Regions from separate parts of the Homo sapiens genome. Here regions 2 and 3 are each linked to region 1. The links come from fine-mapping of genetic effects on gene expression. A gene starts in region 1. Each other region holds a variant in brackets. All regions are shown on one strand. Distances are between the middles of the regions. Region 1 holds the start of IFT88 (intraflagellar transport 88). Region 2 overlaps IFT88 (intraflagellar transport 88). Region 3 overlaps IFT88 (intraflagellar transport 88).

Region 1 (6,508 bases):
ACTACCTGCTCCACCCTGACTCATTCTGATTACCTGCTCTGCCCTGACTCATTCTCCACCCTGACTCATTCCGATTTCCTGCTCTGCCATAACTATTTTTCCCACCAAACCACTTACCCGGTCACTCTCTTTAAATTAGTCAATCAGAATTAGTTTAGCCTGTGCCGTCTAACCTTAGCCAACAGGGGAAGGACACAGCAGCAGGTGCCACAAGCGTCAGGAATAAAAACCCCTTCGCCTCCCTTGTCCAGGTGTGTGCTCACCATTGCTCCATCTGTGAGGGCGCACCCTTCTATAGAAGTAAATTGCCTTGCTGAGAAGGAAAAAAGAAAATTTTATAGTTGAGTGCTATTTCTTTTGCGGCACCAAAACTTTATTTATAATGCTGGCAAGCCTAAAATTTGTAGGTCAAGTTAGAGACCCAGGAAAGAGCTGAAGGCAGTCTGGGGGCAGGATTCCTTCTTCCTCAGAGGACCTTAGTCTTTTCTCTTATGACCTTCCCTTGACGGGATGAGGCCAACCCACCTTGTGGAGGACCAACTGCTTTACTCAAGTCTAATTTAACTGTTAATCACATCTTAAAAAATACCAGCTATCATAGTACTCCAGAACAAAGGCAGTCAGTGTCTCTGCTCACAAAACACGGGAAAGTGCAGGTGACCCATGGAGAATTGTCCCCCAACACTATGTTTTTTCTTTTTTTGGATGGAGTTTCGCTCTTGTCACCCAGGCTGGAGTGCAATACCACCATCTTGGCTCACTGCAACCTCTACCTCCTGGGTTCAAGAGATTCTCCTGCCTTAGCCTCCTGAGTAGCTGGGATTTATTACAGGCGCCTGCCACCTCGCCGGGCTAATTTTTGTATTTTTAGTAGAGACAGGGTTTCACCACGTTGGCCAGGCTGGTCTCCAACTCCTCACCTCAGGTGATCCGCCAGCCTCAGCCTCCCAAAGTGCTGGGATTATAGGCATGAGCCACTGCGCCCGGCCAACACTACTTATTTTATAAAAACTCATTAATTACTGGTGTCTTTAGACTCCCTCTGTCCCTCCCCTCCATCCCCAACATTTACTTTTAAAATTTAAGACAAAACTTAAACATTAAACAATTATGAATTTAATTCCCCCATTTATATTACATTGATTAAGCTTTACACTATGACCCAGGTTCTAGGTGGTTGGGACACAATGGTTCAATCCCTGTCTAGTAAATAAAACGGACACCTTAAGCGCTACAATCAAGGTGCGCACGGGGTGCTACAGAACAATACGCAGACAGGAGGAGGTGGGGGGAAAGGTGAGACTTCCCAGGCAGGTGTCATCCCAGAATAACTTTTACACAGGGTGACTAAGCGAGTTAGTGACTGCGCGGAAAACGGGCTTCCAAGGTTCACAAGGCTCGTGCTGCGGCTCCGGGAGTTATGTCACAGTAAGCTTACTATCATCCTTTGGGCATCTGCTTTACGGATGAGTTCATCAGGATTTAAAGGATCTTGGTTCCATATCCTTCCCCTTCCTCACAGAGGCCGCCAGCCCGGAGCCCCTCTAGGCCCTCCTCCCTCCTGCATCTACTGGCCGCGAGCCTTTCCCTCCCCGCCCCCTTCACACAGGCCGCCCCCAGCCTCCCAACCCCCCGGTTCCGTTCCACGGGAGGCCCCGGCCTCCCTGCCCTCTCCTCCACCGTTCTACCCGCATCGCCCGGCTTCCCGCAAGCCGCTGGCACCGTCCCCTCAACACCCTCCGCCCACCGCCACTCCCTTCCACTGAGGGGGACCGGGCTGCCTTCTCTCTGACCCGCCGTTCTCCGCCCCCACCCACTTCCCCAGGCCTCCCGCACCACCCCCTTCCCGCCGCGCTCTCTCCCGCCCCCGCGCTTCCGGCCCCGCCCGCCCCCGCGCGGAGGACTGTGGGAGCGGCTTCCTTGGATTCCGCGCTTGGCAACGGCTCGGCGTCGCGCTTTGGCCAACCGCTGCGTCGTCCCTGGGCCCGAATAACTGTCGCCCGCTTCCCTCAGCGTGAGGTAGGAGAAGGGCGCTGGGGCCTAGTGCCTCAGGGCCCCTGGCAGCCGTGCCCCTGCGGCGTCCTGTGTGGCGCATCCCGCCGAGGGCCTCTTCGCCCGTCTCCTGCCCGCCCCTGTCGGCCCCGGGGCGGTCTGAGGCGGGGCCCCAGATGGACTCGGCCTGCCCCTGCTTTTCTTCCTCAGGCTCCCGAGTTGTCTACTCAGAAACGCGGGCGTTGTTTCTCACATCGGTGTCCCCAGCTCACAGGCTTTTCTTGCTCCTCTGAACTGGGACGGGCGTCGCTGACCGCTTGGCGATGTCCCAAGTCCCAGTCACGCCTGACGGGGAAACTTAAAACCCAGTTAGATTACTGCGCCAGCTCTGGAATCGCACAGCAGAGATGGTGCACATCGCTCTTTAATTTTCTTGTTAGGTGAAGCACTTCAAATTGCCTGATGAAAGTTGAATCAGGAATGAAGATAAAAGTACACAACAATGCAGAAAGCGGTACTTAGCCTCACAAAGATGGAAACATTCCAAAAACGTGAAGTACTGTTGTCCCAAGATTCTTTCTAAGCCTAAAATTACACTTTTACTAGTCCGATTTTCTGGTTGTGAGTTTTTTTTGTTTGTTTTTTTTTTTTCGAGAAACTGCAGTAGGCTTCTTGGAAGTAGACCAAGGGTGTCCAATCTTTGGCTTCCCTGGGCCACATCGGAAGAAGAATTGTCTTGGGCCACACATGAAATTCACAAACACTAAGGTAGCCGATGAGCTTTAAAAAAAATCGCAAAAAAGAATCTCATAATGCTTCCAGAAAGTTTACGAATTTGTGTTGGGCCACATTCAAAGCCGTCCTGTGCCACGTGCGGGCCGGGGTTGGAAAAGCTTGAAGTAGACTGTCCATAGTCAGTAGAAGAGTATTAAAAAACATACCTTTCACTTAAAAAAAAAAAAGGTTTTGCCAGCATTTGATTTATATTAAACATAGGTGGCATCATCCCCAGATTATTTCAACATGGAAAAGTTTGTTACATGTATAAGCTGCTTTGGAAATTGCCTGGAGAATCCAGAAACCCTGGGTTGTATAACAACAGTTGTTCTGCCACCCATAGCTATTAGCCATGCTTGATTCCCTTCAACTTTCCTGGCCTCACTTTCCACATCTTTTAATATTTGTATGTTCCACAAGATGTCTATTCAACTAAAGTCTCAAGTCAAACCTTTTAAAAATCTGGTTACAACCTAGCAGAAAGGATTTCTCATTCTAAAAGTTGCTTCCTTCTATAACTTATGTGTCAACTAAGCTGACTTAAATAGGGTTCATAATCAGAAATTATGGTTCAGAATAGTGGTTCTCAAAGTGGTCCCCAGACCAGTAGCCTCAGCATCACTTGGGTTTAAGAACCACTGGTTTAGTATTATCTGAGCTAAAGCTTTTAATTAAAAATATTTTATATATCTTTTACCAGTGACTTTTAATACCTTTTTTTTTCTTTTTGAGACGGAGTCGCACGCTCTGTTGCCCAGGCTGGAGTGCAGTGGCGGCAATCTCGGTTTACTGCAAGCTCCGCCTCCCGGGTTCATGCCATTCTCCTGCCTCAGCCTCCCGAGTAGCTGGGACTACAGGCGCCCGCCACCATGCCCAGCTAATTTTTTGTATTTTTAGTAGAGACGGGGTTTCACCGTGTTAGCCAGGATGGTCTCGATCTCCTGACCTCGTGATCCGCCCGCCTCGGCCTCCCAGAGTGTTGGGATTACAAGCGTGAGCCACGACGCCTGGCCCTTTTAATAACCTTTTGAAGCTATTTTGGAATGCCATTTCTATGTGGGTGACATTTGCCCTCATAGTAGTTAATTTTCATCTTCAAAAAGTAATGAGAAATTAACTCAAAATGGATCAATGACCTAAATATAAGAGCTAAAACTGTTAGAAAAAAAGCATAGGTATAAATATTCTTGACCTTAGATTAGGCAGTTCTTTCTTAGATATGATACCAAAAGTACGTGCAACCAAAGGAAAAATAAATTGTATATCATCAAAATTTAAAACTTTTGGCCAGGCGTGGTGGCTCACGCCTGTAATCCCAGCACTTTGGGAGGCCGAGCCGGGCGGATCACGAGGTCAGGAGATCGAGACCATCCTGGCTAACACGGTGAAACCCCGTCTCTACTAAAAATACAAAAAATTAGCCGGGCGTGGTGGCGGGCGCCTGTAGTCCCAGCTGCTGGAGAGGCTGAGGCAGGAGAATGGCGTGAACTCGGGAGGCGGAGCTTTCAGTGAGCCGAGATCGCGCCACTGCACTCCAGCCTGGGTGACAGAGCGAGACTCCGTCCCAAAAAAAAAAAAAATTTTTTTAAACTTTTGTGCTTCAGAGGATAGTACAAAGAATGTAAAATGATGTACAGAATGGGAGAAAGTATTTGTAAATCATTTATATAATGTTTAGTATCAGGAATATATACAGGATCCTTATAATTCATGTGATAACCTGATTTTTGGGAATGAGCTGGCCGGGCGCGGTGGTTCACGCCTGTAATCCCAGCACTCTGGGAGGCCGAGGTGGGCGGATCACAAGGTCAGGAGATCGAGACCATACCGGCTAATACGGTGAAACCCCATCTCTACTAAAAATAAAAATAAAAATAAAAATAAAAAAATTAGCCGGGCTTGGTGGCGGGTGCCTGTAGTCCCAGCTACTCGAGAGGCTGAGGCAGGAGAATGGCGTGAAACTGGGAGGCGGAGCTTGCAGTGAGCCGCGCCACTGCCCTCTAGCCTAGGCGACAGAGCAAGATTCCGTCTCAAAAAAAAAAAAAAATGAGCAAAAGATCTGAACAGACATTTCTCCAAAGAGATATAGAAATGGATAATAAGCAGATGAAAAGATACTCAACATCATTAGTCATCAGGGGAATGCAAGTCAATACTACAATGAGATACCATTTCATACTCACTAGAATTGCAATAATCAAAAACAGGAACAGTAACAGATGTTGGCTAGGACATGGATAAATTGGAAACTTCATGCATTGCAGGTGGGATGTAAAATAGTGCAGCCACTTTGGAAAACAGTCTAGCTGTTCCTCCAAAAGTTAAACATAGAGTTACTATATGATCCAGCAATTCCTTTACTAGATATATTCCCAATAGAATTGGACCTATATATGCATGCTAAAACTTGTACACACACATTCATAGTGATGTTATTCATAAAAGTCAAAAAGTGGAAACAATTCAAATGTCCATTAACTAATGAATGGATAAGCAAAATGTTGCAGATGTATTTAGCCATAAAAAGTAATGAAATATTGATACATACTACTGCGTGGATGAACCTTGGAAGCATTATGCTAAGTGAAAGAGACCAGACACAAAAGGCTACATATTGTGTAATTTCCTTAATATGAAATGTCCAGAATTGGCAAATCCATAGAGACAGAAAATGGTTGCCAGGGACTGGGGAAAGGGAAGGGAGGCATGGAGAGCTGCTAACAGGCCCCATATTTCTTTATGGGATGATGAAAGTGTTCTGGAATTACATACTGGGGATGGTTGCACAACCTTGTGAATATACTAAAAACCACTGCACCTTGAAAAGTTAAATTGTATGGTATATGAATTATAGTTCAAAAACTAATAATTTTGTTAGTATTTAAAATATATAAATAATTTTTAAAGGTTATGAGAAGCCACATATATGTGGTATTATGCTGAGAAAAAGATTAAGCTGAAAATTTATTTTTTATTTATTTATTTTTATTATTTATTTATTTTTTGAGACAGAGTCTGGCTCTGTCGCCTAGGCAGGGGTGTGGTGGCACAATCTCGGCCCACTGCAACCTCCGCCTCCCAGGTTCAGGCCATTCTCCTGCCTCAGCCTCCTGAGTACCTGGGATTACAGGTGCCTGCTATCATGCCCGGCTAATTTTTTTGTATTTTTAGTAGAGACGGGGTTTCACCATATTAGCCAGGATGGTCTCGATCTCCTGACCTCGTGATCTGCCTGCCTCGGCCTCCCAAAGTGCTGGGATTATAGGCGTGAGCCACTGCGCCCAGCCTAAGCTGAAAATTTCTTAGGAATTTGCTGGTGCACTTAAAATGTACAGGCCTTAAGAAAATATGTATTTGCTTTAAAGAAAATACATTTCTTGAATACTAGCAATACTACATTTCTTGGGTAATTAGCCTTCCTCCACCTCCCACCCCTCAAATTGCCTAAAATATTGACTTGATTTGAATGATACTTCCAGGAATCCTTGCCAGATTCTTTAGTAATTATTAGATTTACAGTATATCTATATGGTAATTTCATTTCTCCCATGCTTCTGTCCAAGTCAAAATGTAGAGATGAATCTTGAAATTTTACATTTTTATTTGGGAAGAAAGAATTGCAGTTTGAGGACCAGGTGGTCTTTGGTATGTCCAAAGAACAAAGAGAAGGTTGGAGGTTTATCAAAAGGAGAAGTGTCATGTAGTGCTCTTTGAGAAAGTTCACTGGAACTAGTGAGGT
Region 2 (6,508 bases), 68 kb after region 1:
AAAGAGATCCAAACCCCTGGTTGAAGAATGACTCCAGTGCTTCAATCTACTGGTAGGAGAGTGGTACCAGTTAGTTGCATGTCTAGAGGAGGGTGCTGATTGGGGGAAAAGATGTTGTGTTTCTTTTTAAATATATTTAAACATTTTTTGTAATGATGGAAGCAAGTAGACAGAAGGTGTATTAGTCCGTTCTCACACTGCTATAAAGAAATAACCGAGACTGGGTAATTTATCAAGGAAAGAGGTTTAATTGACTCACATTTTTGTATGGCTAGGGAAACCTCAGGAAACTTATAATCATAGCAGAAGGTGAAGGAGAAGCAAGCACCTTCTTCACAAGGAGGCAGGAAAAGAGAGAGGGTGGGCCTTTGTACCCCCACCCCAGCCAGCCATTGGATGTGGCCTGCCTCCCAAAAAAGGGTCACCTCTAGGAAGGGGGACAAGGTGCCTCTGTCTTCCACCCAGTTTCCAGAGAGGGCTGCCTGCTGAGGCTGGTGGCCAGTAGCACCTCCAGCACCTCTGACGGGCAAGTCCATGGCGTGAAGCATGGTGTCTATCATGGCCATTAAATTTTGAATTTAGAAAATCACTAATGAATTTTTTGACCCAATTCGTCACCAAATCTTTATACCAAGTTTGACGACTGTGCAGGAGGAGACCAATAGAAAATTTAAAGAAGCAAAGAGAATTGTTAGATTTAATCAACCAAGCAGAGCTATTAGAGCATCTCATCAGCAATTTCTTATACTTGGTTCTGAAGAAAATGGTTGTAATCAAGAATGTTTTGAGGCCAAGTGATGAGTCTGCTATGTAGTTTTATATGATATGTAGTTGAAAATATATTGCTGGTATCCGGCATATAGTTGTATCTGTTTTCTCTTGCTGTGTAATGAACTGCCCCAAACCGTAGTGGCTTGAAATCACCAGGTATATGCTTACATTCTACCCAGTGAGCTGGGTTCACCTGGATGCTTCTTTTACTGGGCTTGCCTGGCCTTACTCATGCAGCTGACATCCTCTGAGGCATGACTGAGACTGGATGTTCCAAATTCCTACCTCATGCCTGTCACTTAGCTGAACTGTTGTCCAGGGCAACTCAGTCTTCCCTCAGAGCATCCCCAGCAGGGGATCCCAGCCTTCTCAGGTGGGACTGGGTTCCATGAGAGCAAACCCCAGTACACAGGTGAGTATTAGGTTCTTGTGCGCATTGAGTTTGTTATTATTTTGTTGAACAAAACAAACATGAGAGAGAATCATACCTGAATGAGTCGTACGTGAATCCTGGGAGGTGTGATCCACTGGAGTCATTATTGTAATAATCTACCACTGCCTGCACTGAGACCCCAGTTATTCATATCCCTCCCAAGACTCTGAGTCTCATTCCACCACAGCATCAGGCTCAAAGGCCAGGATCTACATCAGGTCTGGATAGAAATGGGGCTTTCTAGCTGGGTATGGTGGCTCATGCCTGTAATCCCAGCACTTTGGGAGGCTGAGGCAGGTGGATCACTTGAGGCCAGGAGTTCAAGCCTAGCCAACATGGTGAAACCTCGTCTCTACTAAACATGGTGAAACCCCGTCTCTACCAAAAATATAAAAAATTAGCCAGGCATGGTGGTGCATACCTGTAGTCCCAGCTACTCGGGAGGCTGAGGCATGAGAATTGCTTGAACTTGGGAGGGCAGAGGTTGCAGTGAGCCAAGATCGTGCCACTGCATTCCAGCCTGGGCGACAGAACGAGACTCCATCTCAAACAAACAAAAAAAAAAAAAGAAGAAATGGAGCTTTCTCAGGAACAATTTCTTCTTGATCCAAAGATTTCTTTATTTTTTTTTTTTATACTTTAAGTTTTAGGGTACATGTGTACAACGTGCAGGTTTGTTACATATGTATACATGTGCCATGTTGGTGTGCTGCACCTGTTAACTCTTCATTTAACATTAGGTATATGTCCTAATGCTATCCCTCCCCCCTCCCCCCACCCCACAACAGGCCCCGGTGTGTGATGTTCGCCTTCCTGTGTCCATGTGTTCTCATTGTTCAATTCCCACCTATGAGTGAGAACATGCAGTGTTTGGTTTTTTGTCCTGGCAATAGTTTGCTGAGAATGATGGTTTCCAGCTTCATCCATGTCCCTACAAAGGACATGAATTCATCATTTTTTATGGCTGCATAGTATTCCATGGTGTGTATGTGCCACATTTTCTTAATCCATTCTATCATTGTTGGACATTTGTTCCAAAGGATTATAAAACATGCTGCAAAAGACACATGCACACATATGTTTATTGTGGCACTATTCACAATAGCAAGGACTTGGATCCAAAAATTTCTGAATGAAAAGACATGGCACCTGTCCCATCATACATGCAACATACCATGGAGATATAAAGACAGGATAACTGTAAGACACTCATCCCCAAGGGGAGGGATGGAGGCACATCACAGTCACTATCCTTAATGATTCTGAAACCTAGCAAAGCAGGTGTGGCCAGTGCTCCCTAGTCTGAGAAAAACGAATATTCCTTGATTAGGGCCCAGCTCTGCTCCCTCGGAGTGGCCCCCTAATTCTTTGTCCTCTGTGGCTCTTGGCTCGGCCTTCTGAGAGCATCTTCCTTTTGTATAAGAAATAGCCTATGTTTCAGGAACAGAAAACCAAACACCGCATGTTCTCATTCATAAGTGAGAGTTGAACAATGAGAACACATGGACACAGGGAGGAGAGCATCATACACCGGGGCCTGTCGGGGAGTGGAAGGCAAGGGAAGGG[A/G]GAGCATTAGGACCAATACCTAATGCATACAGGGCTTAAAACCTAGATGACAGGTTGATAGGTCCAGCAAACCACCATGGGACGTGTATACCTATGTAACAAACCTGCACATTCTGCACATGTATCCCATGTTTGTTTTTAACCTAAAGTAAAAAATAAAAAAAAAAGGAAAGAAATAGCCTGTGTTTGCAGCTGATTAACTTTCTCAGCCTGTGTTCTGCCCTGAGACATTTGGGGCATAGAGGGCTTTTTTCATTTTGGACTATATCTGTCCCTTTAATCCAAACTAGCAACAGTCAGCACAACTCCCCTAAAAACTTGGAGGGTTTTCTCTAAATCTTGTTGGGCTTTCCCACATGTCTCAACAGCTGCATCCATAATTCTTTTCAGGACAGACCCCTTCCCACTAGGTGTGTAGGCTGCTATGGAACAGAGCCTTGAAGTGTCTTAGAAGCCCACTTCGCTACCTGGGAGAGAAGGTCTGCTAGGTATGACCTTAAATCTTTGTGAGATGTTTACAAAAGGTGTTACAGCCACACCTTTGAATTGTTCCCTAACCTGCCACCATCTGAGAATCTTGTGCCACCACAAGAAACTGGAGACATGAAGTAATTTTATTTTCTACCTTAGCAAGTCCTGGTTCTTCTATATTTTCTCTAAATTCTACCTGCAAACTAAACAGTTCTCTCCTTAGCTCATTTTTCTCTTCCTATACCTGATCAATCATACCCAGTTAAAATAAGTTCATTGGCCCTTCAGCATCCTACCTAGAAATCCCCTTGGCCACATGTTGCATATTTATGAGGTGCACTTCCTATCCTCCATCCCACTCTGTGGGTGCCACTTGTGTCAGTGCTTCATGGTGACAGTGTGGTTTGCACTTTATCCAGCCTCTGATGATTCCTTCTGCCTTTGCAGGCTCACTCATGCTTCACCATCTCTCCAGTCCCCAACACAGGCCCTCACAGCTTTTCTCAGTTTTGCCTGCTACGTAGTCCAAAAGACAATGTTACATGTTTTAGTTTTTAAGCAGCAGCACCTCACTTGTCGGTACCAATTTTTGTTTCAGAGTTCACATAAAAACTTGCACATGAATGTTCATGGCAGCATTATTCATAGTAACCATAAAGGTGCCTGGAAGCAACCCAAGTGTCCATCAACAATGAATGGATAAATGAAATGTGGTCTACCCATACAGCGGGACATTATTCAGCCTTTAAAAGGATTGCAGCACAGATGCATGCTAAAACATGGACGAACCTTAAAAATATTATGCTAAGTGAAAGAAGTCAGACACAAAAGACTGCATATTTTATGATTCTATTTATATTCAGTGTCCAGAATAGGCAAGGAGACAGAAAACAGATTAGTGGTTGCCAGGGGCTGGGGGAAGAGGAGGATGGGAAGTGACTATTGATGGGTACAGGGTTTCTTTTGAGGGTGGAAGTAGATATTGGCAATGGTTGCACAACTTTGTGAACCTACTAAATGCCACAGAATTCTACATTTTAAAGGGGTCAGGTTTATTATATATAAGTTATATCTAAACTTTTTAAAAAGTTTAACGAGGGACGGTCACTGTGAGTGTTATGGGAAAAGGGGCATGGGAATTTAATGTTATACAGTTGTGAAGGAGCCATGGCGGTGAAGGTGCAGAAGGGGAGCTGGAGATCTGAGGAGGAGTAACCATCAGTCAGTGAGTGGCCACACATATCTAGCTGCCACAGTAGAACCCAGAGGGCCTTCATGGGGAGTTCTGTGGGAAGCAGATGCCTCTGTGCAGCTGCCTCCTCTGGGGACCACAGCCAAACCCTATCTTGGAGCAGGGACAGCATAGTCAGGAAGAAGAGCTGCCCTTGGAGTGGAGTAAGTGAGGAGAAGCTGGTACCCATGGACACTTCTGTGTCAGACCTGCATCTGATGACAAGAAAAAGGCTTTCTGAGACTAAAGGCCACTGCTTCAGGTCTGCATTCCAGATGTCACACAAGTTCCTCTTTTGGCCAAGTCTAGACAAGAGGCTAATAGTGAAGGAGCTTCTTGGAAATGTAGTTCCTGGCTTAACCAAGCTGACCTGGCACAGATGGTCACAATATTTAAGAACAGAGAGGTTCCTGTAGCTCACGTGAATGATGGCAAGGCCCTGACCGAGCATTTGGCATGGAGACGGAAAAAAACAATGGATTGCTAGAAGTGCAGAGACCTAGTAGGTGACGCAGCCAGTGTGCTAGGGGCAAGAAGGGTAGTGCTTTTGTGACAGCTATTTCAGGGCTTCAAGTGGGAGGGGGAGTGCTGCAGCAAATGATGACATGCAATTTGGGCGTTGAGTATGGAACCACCTACATATAAATAGTGTTGTTATTCTAACCATGAGACTGTGGAGAAGTCAATCACAAGAAACTTGGGTGGTTCAGCCTGATAAGTAAAACTCTATGTAGAATCAGACTATCAAGACCAAGATATGTAAAATATTTTTGTTCATTACATTTATAATCTCAGAAAGTCTATTTATTATGTCTGTAATCTCAGAACAGTCAGAAAAGGTATTTCATGAAATTCAAATAATTTGTATATGTATTTTACTTAGGGAAAGGATTTTGCACAAGCCAGCAGCTATGCAGATATAGCTGTGAACTCTGATAGATATAATCCAGCAGCTCTTACTAATAAAGGGAATACAGTTTTTGCAAATGGTGATTATGAGAAGGCCGCTGAATTCTATAAAGAGGCTCTAAGAAATGATTCTTCTTGTACTGAAGCACTTTATAATATTGGTAAGTGAAACAAGGGGAAATTGCTTTTTAAATTATTTATTTGCTTTGTATTTGTTTTTGTTTTGTTTTGCTTAAAGAGCTCTAACACATTAGGAGGAGGAGTTGACTTCCTTCTAACGGAAAATTGAAGACTACTGCCTCTCAGATTATAGATTATTTTAAATGGAATTAATGATTCAGAAGCTATGCACATGCAAAATTTGGATCAGGCTTGCCATACTGCCCTCCAAAAAGGCTTTTCCATCACAGTGTATAATACTAATTTCCCAAATTTCTGCTAATACTGGATATTATCATTCTTTTTAACTTTTGCCAAGTTCATAGATGGGAAAAAATCCCATTTGCTTTCTTTTTAATTATGAACAATTTCAAACATGCACAAAAGTACACACAAGAAATAAGTACCCATGTACCTATCACCCCAGTTTGACACATTTTCACATTTTGCCATCTTTACTTCAGATTTTGTTTTTAATAAGCCAAATACTACAAGCCATGAAGTCTCACCACCATCACATTCTCTTCCCTGCCTTTCAGCGGTTGCCTGAAATGGGCATCATCACCCCTGGGCATGAATTTTCAGTATTGCAAACACATGTCCATGCAGTACTGGGTCTTGTCTCTTGGATTATTAATAACTTTTCTTCTGAAGTTTTCTTCTCCCTGCCTAGGTATTTTTTGCTTTCTTTGGTTTGCTTATTTTATTCTCTTTTCCATGTTATGGACTTTACTTAGATGTCTAATGATTTTGGGCTGTCTCCTGGTATTCAGGAGTTTGTGGCTAAAAACTGAGTGGAGTCTCTAAGTCCATGAGAGAGATTGATGGGTTGGCACTCTGCTATAGGGCATCTGTCTGGTCTGGTCTGTTTAGTTGGAGACCTGTCCATAAGTCAATTGGATCTTTCCTCCCAGAAAAGACTCTTTAATCTCCTGCCTGAAGGAGGAGGGAAGGCCTACTGCCAACCT
Region 3 (5,000 bases), 110 kb after region 1:
TCCTGGTAATAAGAGGATAGGCCATTTGCAAGTCAGATTACAGAGCACCTAGAAGTAAATTGGTCAGTAAAGGCCTCCTAAAGGTCCCAAAGTTATTGTCTGATGCTCTTCAGTGTTTCTAGATATAAACAAATACTTCCTCATACTTAAGGAGTGAGAATAGATCTTAATTATTGCATCTTAATAGAGGCTAAATTGAATATCATCTTCTTAAAAATAGAAGAGAGAGACAGACCAAAAAGCTTTTACAAAGTGTCTAATGGATAATGAAATCAATTTATAGCTCACCAAAAGAGAGTTATTTAAGAAGAGATTTGAAAAAGTAAGAACCACTATATTCATAACACATTCAAAGGAATGGGCAGAATTTTTTAGAAAGTTTCATTTTAGATAGTACTTTCAAAAAATAAGAAACTAATAGGGGCAGTTGATAGACTTCCTAGCTTAAGGGAAGGGGAATGTTGAAAAATGATTATATACGTATTATAATTGGGCCTTGAAGACTACAGAGGGCCATTAGATTTTTCAACTAAGATAGTTTTGATAGCCTTAAAGAAAGCAGTCTCAGTGTACTGTTAGAGGTAAAAGTCAGATTCTAATGATTTAAGAAGTGAATGAGTTGCAGGGAGGTAGAGAAGAGGATATAAACTATTCTCTCACACATGGTGGTGAAATATACAGCCTCACCAATAACTAAAACAATGCATACTTGCCAAGACCAGCTCAGTTATGGAGACCCTAACCCAGCAGTGCTAGAGGAATTAAAGACACAGACACAGAAATAGGGTGCAGAGTGGGACCAGGGGGCTGACAGCCGTCAGAGCTGAGAGCCATGAACAGAGTCTGACCCACATATTATTGACAGTAAGCCAGTGCTAAGCATTGCTTCTATAGATTATAGATTAGCTAGAAGCATTCCTTATAGGAAACAAAGCATTTTTAGCAAGGAGCAGAGAAACAGGCCCTGGCTGATTATCTGCAGCAAAAGCATGTTGTTAAGGCACAGGCTGCTCGTGCTATTGTTTGTGGCTTGAGCAGTTTTCCGCTCCGGAGGGGCCAGGTTTTCCTTGCCCTGCTCCAGTAAACCAACAACTTCTAGCAGTGTGAACCAACAACTTCTAGCAGTGTGTGTGATAGCCATCACGAGCATGTCACATTGCTGCAGAAATCCTGTTTATGACCAGTTTCTTTAAGGCCTGTTTATGACAGGCTTAGGGCTTGCTACCAGCATGTCTCCCTTTTCGTTTTTGCAAAGCGATAAAGACAAAGGCAGCTTTGTCACGGTGGGCTACTTCTCGCAAGATTTGGGATCTGCATCGGCAGACTACACAAAGACAGACAACACAGATTAAAAGCACAATCATCATTGAAATCACAGAGCCTCCAAGTGTCTTGATCCACTTTAATGGGTTAATAGCTGCTAATCCATCTGCAGCTCCTTCAAGCACTTCAGTTCCTGGCATTAGCGTCAGATGTGCCTGAGAGGCTTGAAATACTTGTTTCTTCAGTTTTACAATATCTAAAGATAAATTTCCAGTATGACCCTTTAAATGTCTCCTAACTCTTTCCCACTCGTGCTCTGTTTCATTATACAGATGAGGAGTAATGCAAAAATCAGAAGTATTCCAATCACATTGTAACTGCATTCTGTATTTTAGACTAACTACTCAATCTCCTAGCCACATTACAGTTTGTCGGAGATCATTGATTTGATTAGCTAGTTTCTGGTCTATATTAGTTTGGGAATTCCACAGCAGAGTAGAATTTTTCTGCCAATTATTTACATAGTCTGCTGTTTGTACTGTGGAATGCAGAGCAACTCCAGCTACCACGGCAGTAGCTGTGACAGCAGTCAATCCCGTAATGATTAAAATTAAAGTGGCAATTAAACGCCGAGAGTGCCTCAAAATCTATCGAAGAATTTCAGTAATAATATGCGCAGAAGGAGAGGCTTCCCAAGGATGGGAAAGCTTTACAGGTATCCATACGCCTTCTCGGGCTCTTACTACTAAAATAGAATGATCAGTATTATACAAGGAAGAATTCACACAAGAAAACAATCTATATTCTTGACAAGTCATATGATGATTAGGGAGATCAAGTTTTAAATCACCCACTACAAACAGGAAAGGCGGACAGACACAACTATGTATCCAGACTGAACTGTTGTGAGCCAATTCTAACATGTAATTAGGATTATATTGGGTTGGCTTAGTATATTTTCCTTCCCAAATCTTTATCTTTTTCAGTGCCATTAATATTTTCCATAACTCCTTATGTTTAGCTCTTACATCAGGTCATATCATTTGGGGTTGAGGTACCACTATACCACCATATGCCCAAATAATAGGAACTCTTGCTGTACTTCTTATAGTGTCCACCATCTGATTATTTTGTTTATATGCAGGGTGACCATTAGCTACAGATTGAGAGGTGAGCCTCATAAATGCCCCTTTAGGGGACCAATCAATAATGACTCCATATGAATCATTACACAACACCTCTGCCTGCCTTGC[G/A]ACACAATCTTCCCAAGCAAATACCTTCATTTTTGCTGACCATGTCCAATCCAGTTTACAGATAGGTTTTTGAGGGTGGTAAACTTCGGTTACAGGAGCATAATAATTGTGATAAATACTAAGACCAGAAAGCATATGTAATTGTGTCATGGAGATGTTACATTCAGGCACTATCGCCAGCCAGGATTGATGACTGGGAGCTAAACACCTATTGGCTTTTCCCAAACAAATAGGTAAATCCTCAAATCCCAACAAGATATTCATAATAGTTCCTTCCTCTTAGGGCTTAGACGGGCCTCTATCATCTATAGAACTAGGCATCTAAAAACTTTCGTTAGTGTATACCTCCACTGGGGGGTCTAACCATGTTTCTGGCTGTAGAAGTGGTGGAAAAGGAATATATGCCCAATAAGTATAATTGTCTTTTGTTTCAGCAGTCACTGGGGGAATACTCATGGCGATGGTGAGCACAGCCATCATAGCTACCATTAGATTACTCATTGTAACTGGTTGTCCTGCCTTCTTCAGATTTTCTTCCGCCATCTGTGTCAACTTCTTGATCTGGCCCCAGGGGGGTGGCTGTGCCCGACCAGTGTTGCTCGCCAGCACTTGTGTCTTCCTTATTGTCAGTCTCAACATGGCTGCAACCGGGGGGTCCTCGGGTTCCTCCCAAAATCTCTTCCTTGGCATCTGGCTGATGATAAGTTTTCAGGTATCTTGATGGTATCCAAATCAGCTGCTGGTTTTGGCCTGGAGAACACAAGCATAACCTCTACCCCATGTTATTATTTTACCTATTTCCCAACTCGTTGTTATCGAATCTCTCCACCAAACCAGTTGTTCCGCTTCTATCTTTGCAGCTGGTTTTGGTAGATGCCGTTCAGCTGCTGATAGCATCTGGCCTTTAGATAGGCTCAAAAAATTTAAAGTCAGTAATGCTAGATTCAGTTGCATGTGTGGAGTCCTATAATCACTGTCCCTGTTTCCCCCTTCTGCTTTTGCAATTGTCATTTTAGGGAGAGATTCATTCGTTCCACAATGGCTTGTCCTTGTGAATTATATGGGATGCCAGTAATGTGTTTAATATTCCATATAGAGAAAAATGTAGCTAGAGCTTGGCTAGTATAGCCTGGGACATTGTCCGTTTTAACAGAAGCTGGAATGCACATGACCGTGAAGCGTTGCAGAAGATGCCGTTTAATACAGGCAGAAGATTCTCCTGTTTGACAGGTAGCCCAAACAAAGTGAGAAAAATGTATCTACACATACATGCACATAAGCTAGTCTCCTAAACGAGGGAACATGGGTGGCACCCATTTGCCAAAGAGAATTAGGTTCCGATCCTCGAGGATTAACTTCTCCTGTAAAAGATGAGGAATGCACCATTTGACAAGTTGGGCATCGCTGGATAATAGCTTTAGCTTCTTTCCAGGTAATGCTGTATCTGCGTTTGAGACCAGAGGCATTAACATGGGTTAAATTGTGAAAGTGTCTAGCGTTAGATATTTCAGTAGCAGCTAGGCAATCAGCCATTTGATTCCTTGGAGTCAAAAGTCCTGGAAGAGTTGTATGAGCTCCAATATGAGTAATGTAAAAAGAGTGCATTCTGTTCCTAACTGTGGTTTGTAATTGGGTAAATAAAGTCATCAGTTGTTCATCTGTGTGGAATTGTAGCTGAGCATTTTCAACTAACTGTGTGGAATGAACCACATATGAAGAATCAGAAATTACATTGGCAGGCATCTCAAAAGCAGTCAGCACCTCAATTACAGCTACAAGCTCCGCTTTTTGAGCTGAAGTATAGGGCGTCTGGAAAACTTTACGTTTTGAATAAGAAGCTTTACCATTACTAGACCCATCTGTAAAAACATTTTCAGCACCTACAGCTGGTTTAGATTTAGTTATTCCAGGGAGAATCCAATTAGTTAATTTTAAAAGTTGAAATAATTTTGTTTTCGGAAAGTGATTATCAAGAACACCTACGAAATCAGCTAAATGGGTTTGCCAAGACTATTTATAAAGTCCTGTTGTGTTAGTGTTTTTGTAAGAGGGACAATAATTTTTCCAGGGTCATATGCATGCAATTTAACAGTTTGGGTTCTCCCATTTCCTACCAGAGTAGCAATTTGATCCAAATAAGGAATTAGAGTCTGTGAATTAGCATGTGGAAGAAAAAGCCATTCTACCAAGTCCTGCTCTTGGACAATAACACCAGTAGGTGAATGCTGTGTCGGAAAAATCAGCAAGTCTAAAGTCTTTGTTGGATCTATTCTATTTATTTGAGTTGTATGCACTTGCTTCTCAATCAGCTGTAAATCTGCCTCAGCTTCCTTTGTTAATTGACAAGGGCTAGTGAGACTAGGATCTCCTCTAAGGATAGAAAATAGATTACTCATGGCATAGGTAGGAATGCCTAGAGCAGGTTGTATCCAATTAATGTCCCCTGGTAATTTTTGAAAGTCATTCAGTGTTTTCAATTGATCC

What was found. PIP is the estimated chance that this variant, and not a neighbour inherited with it, causes the effect.
Region 2: its variant is the best candidate, but not a certain one, in a credible set for the expression of IFT88 in whole blood (INTERVAL, PIP 0.71).
Region 3: its variant is the best candidate, but not a certain one, in a credible set for the expression of IFT88 in blood mononuclear cells (TOPMed, PIP 0.54).

What each region holds. Positions count from the first base shown.
Region 1 is chr13:20,565,238-20,571,745 of GRCh38, forward strand. It overlaps IFT88 (intraflagellar transport 88), which reads left to right and starts at 1,920. Exons shown (of 26, transcript NM_006531.5): 1 at 1,920-2,019. It overlaps LOC105370103 (a long non-coding RNA gene), which reads right to left and starts at 1,792. Exons shown (of 6, transcript XR_941725.3): 1 at 1,439-1,792; 2 at 264-313. RefSeq lists silencers at 1,620-2,029, 2,125-2,313.
Region 2 is chr13:20,632,977-20,639,484 of GRCh38, forward strand. IFT88 (intraflagellar transport 88) reads left to right here. Exons shown (of 26, transcript NM_006531.5): 17 at 5,356-5,542. Among named protein-coding and RNA genes, the nearest start is that of IL17D, 67 kb to the right of the region's middle. The variant A/G (reference allele first, on the strand shown) is at 2,771.
Region 3 is chr13:20,677,537-20,682,536 of GRCh38, forward strand. All of the region lies in intron 24 of IFT88 (intraflagellar transport 88), which reads left to right. Among named protein-coding and RNA genes, the nearest start is that of IL17D, 24 kb to the right of the region's middle. The variant G/A (reference allele first, on the strand shown) is at 2,517.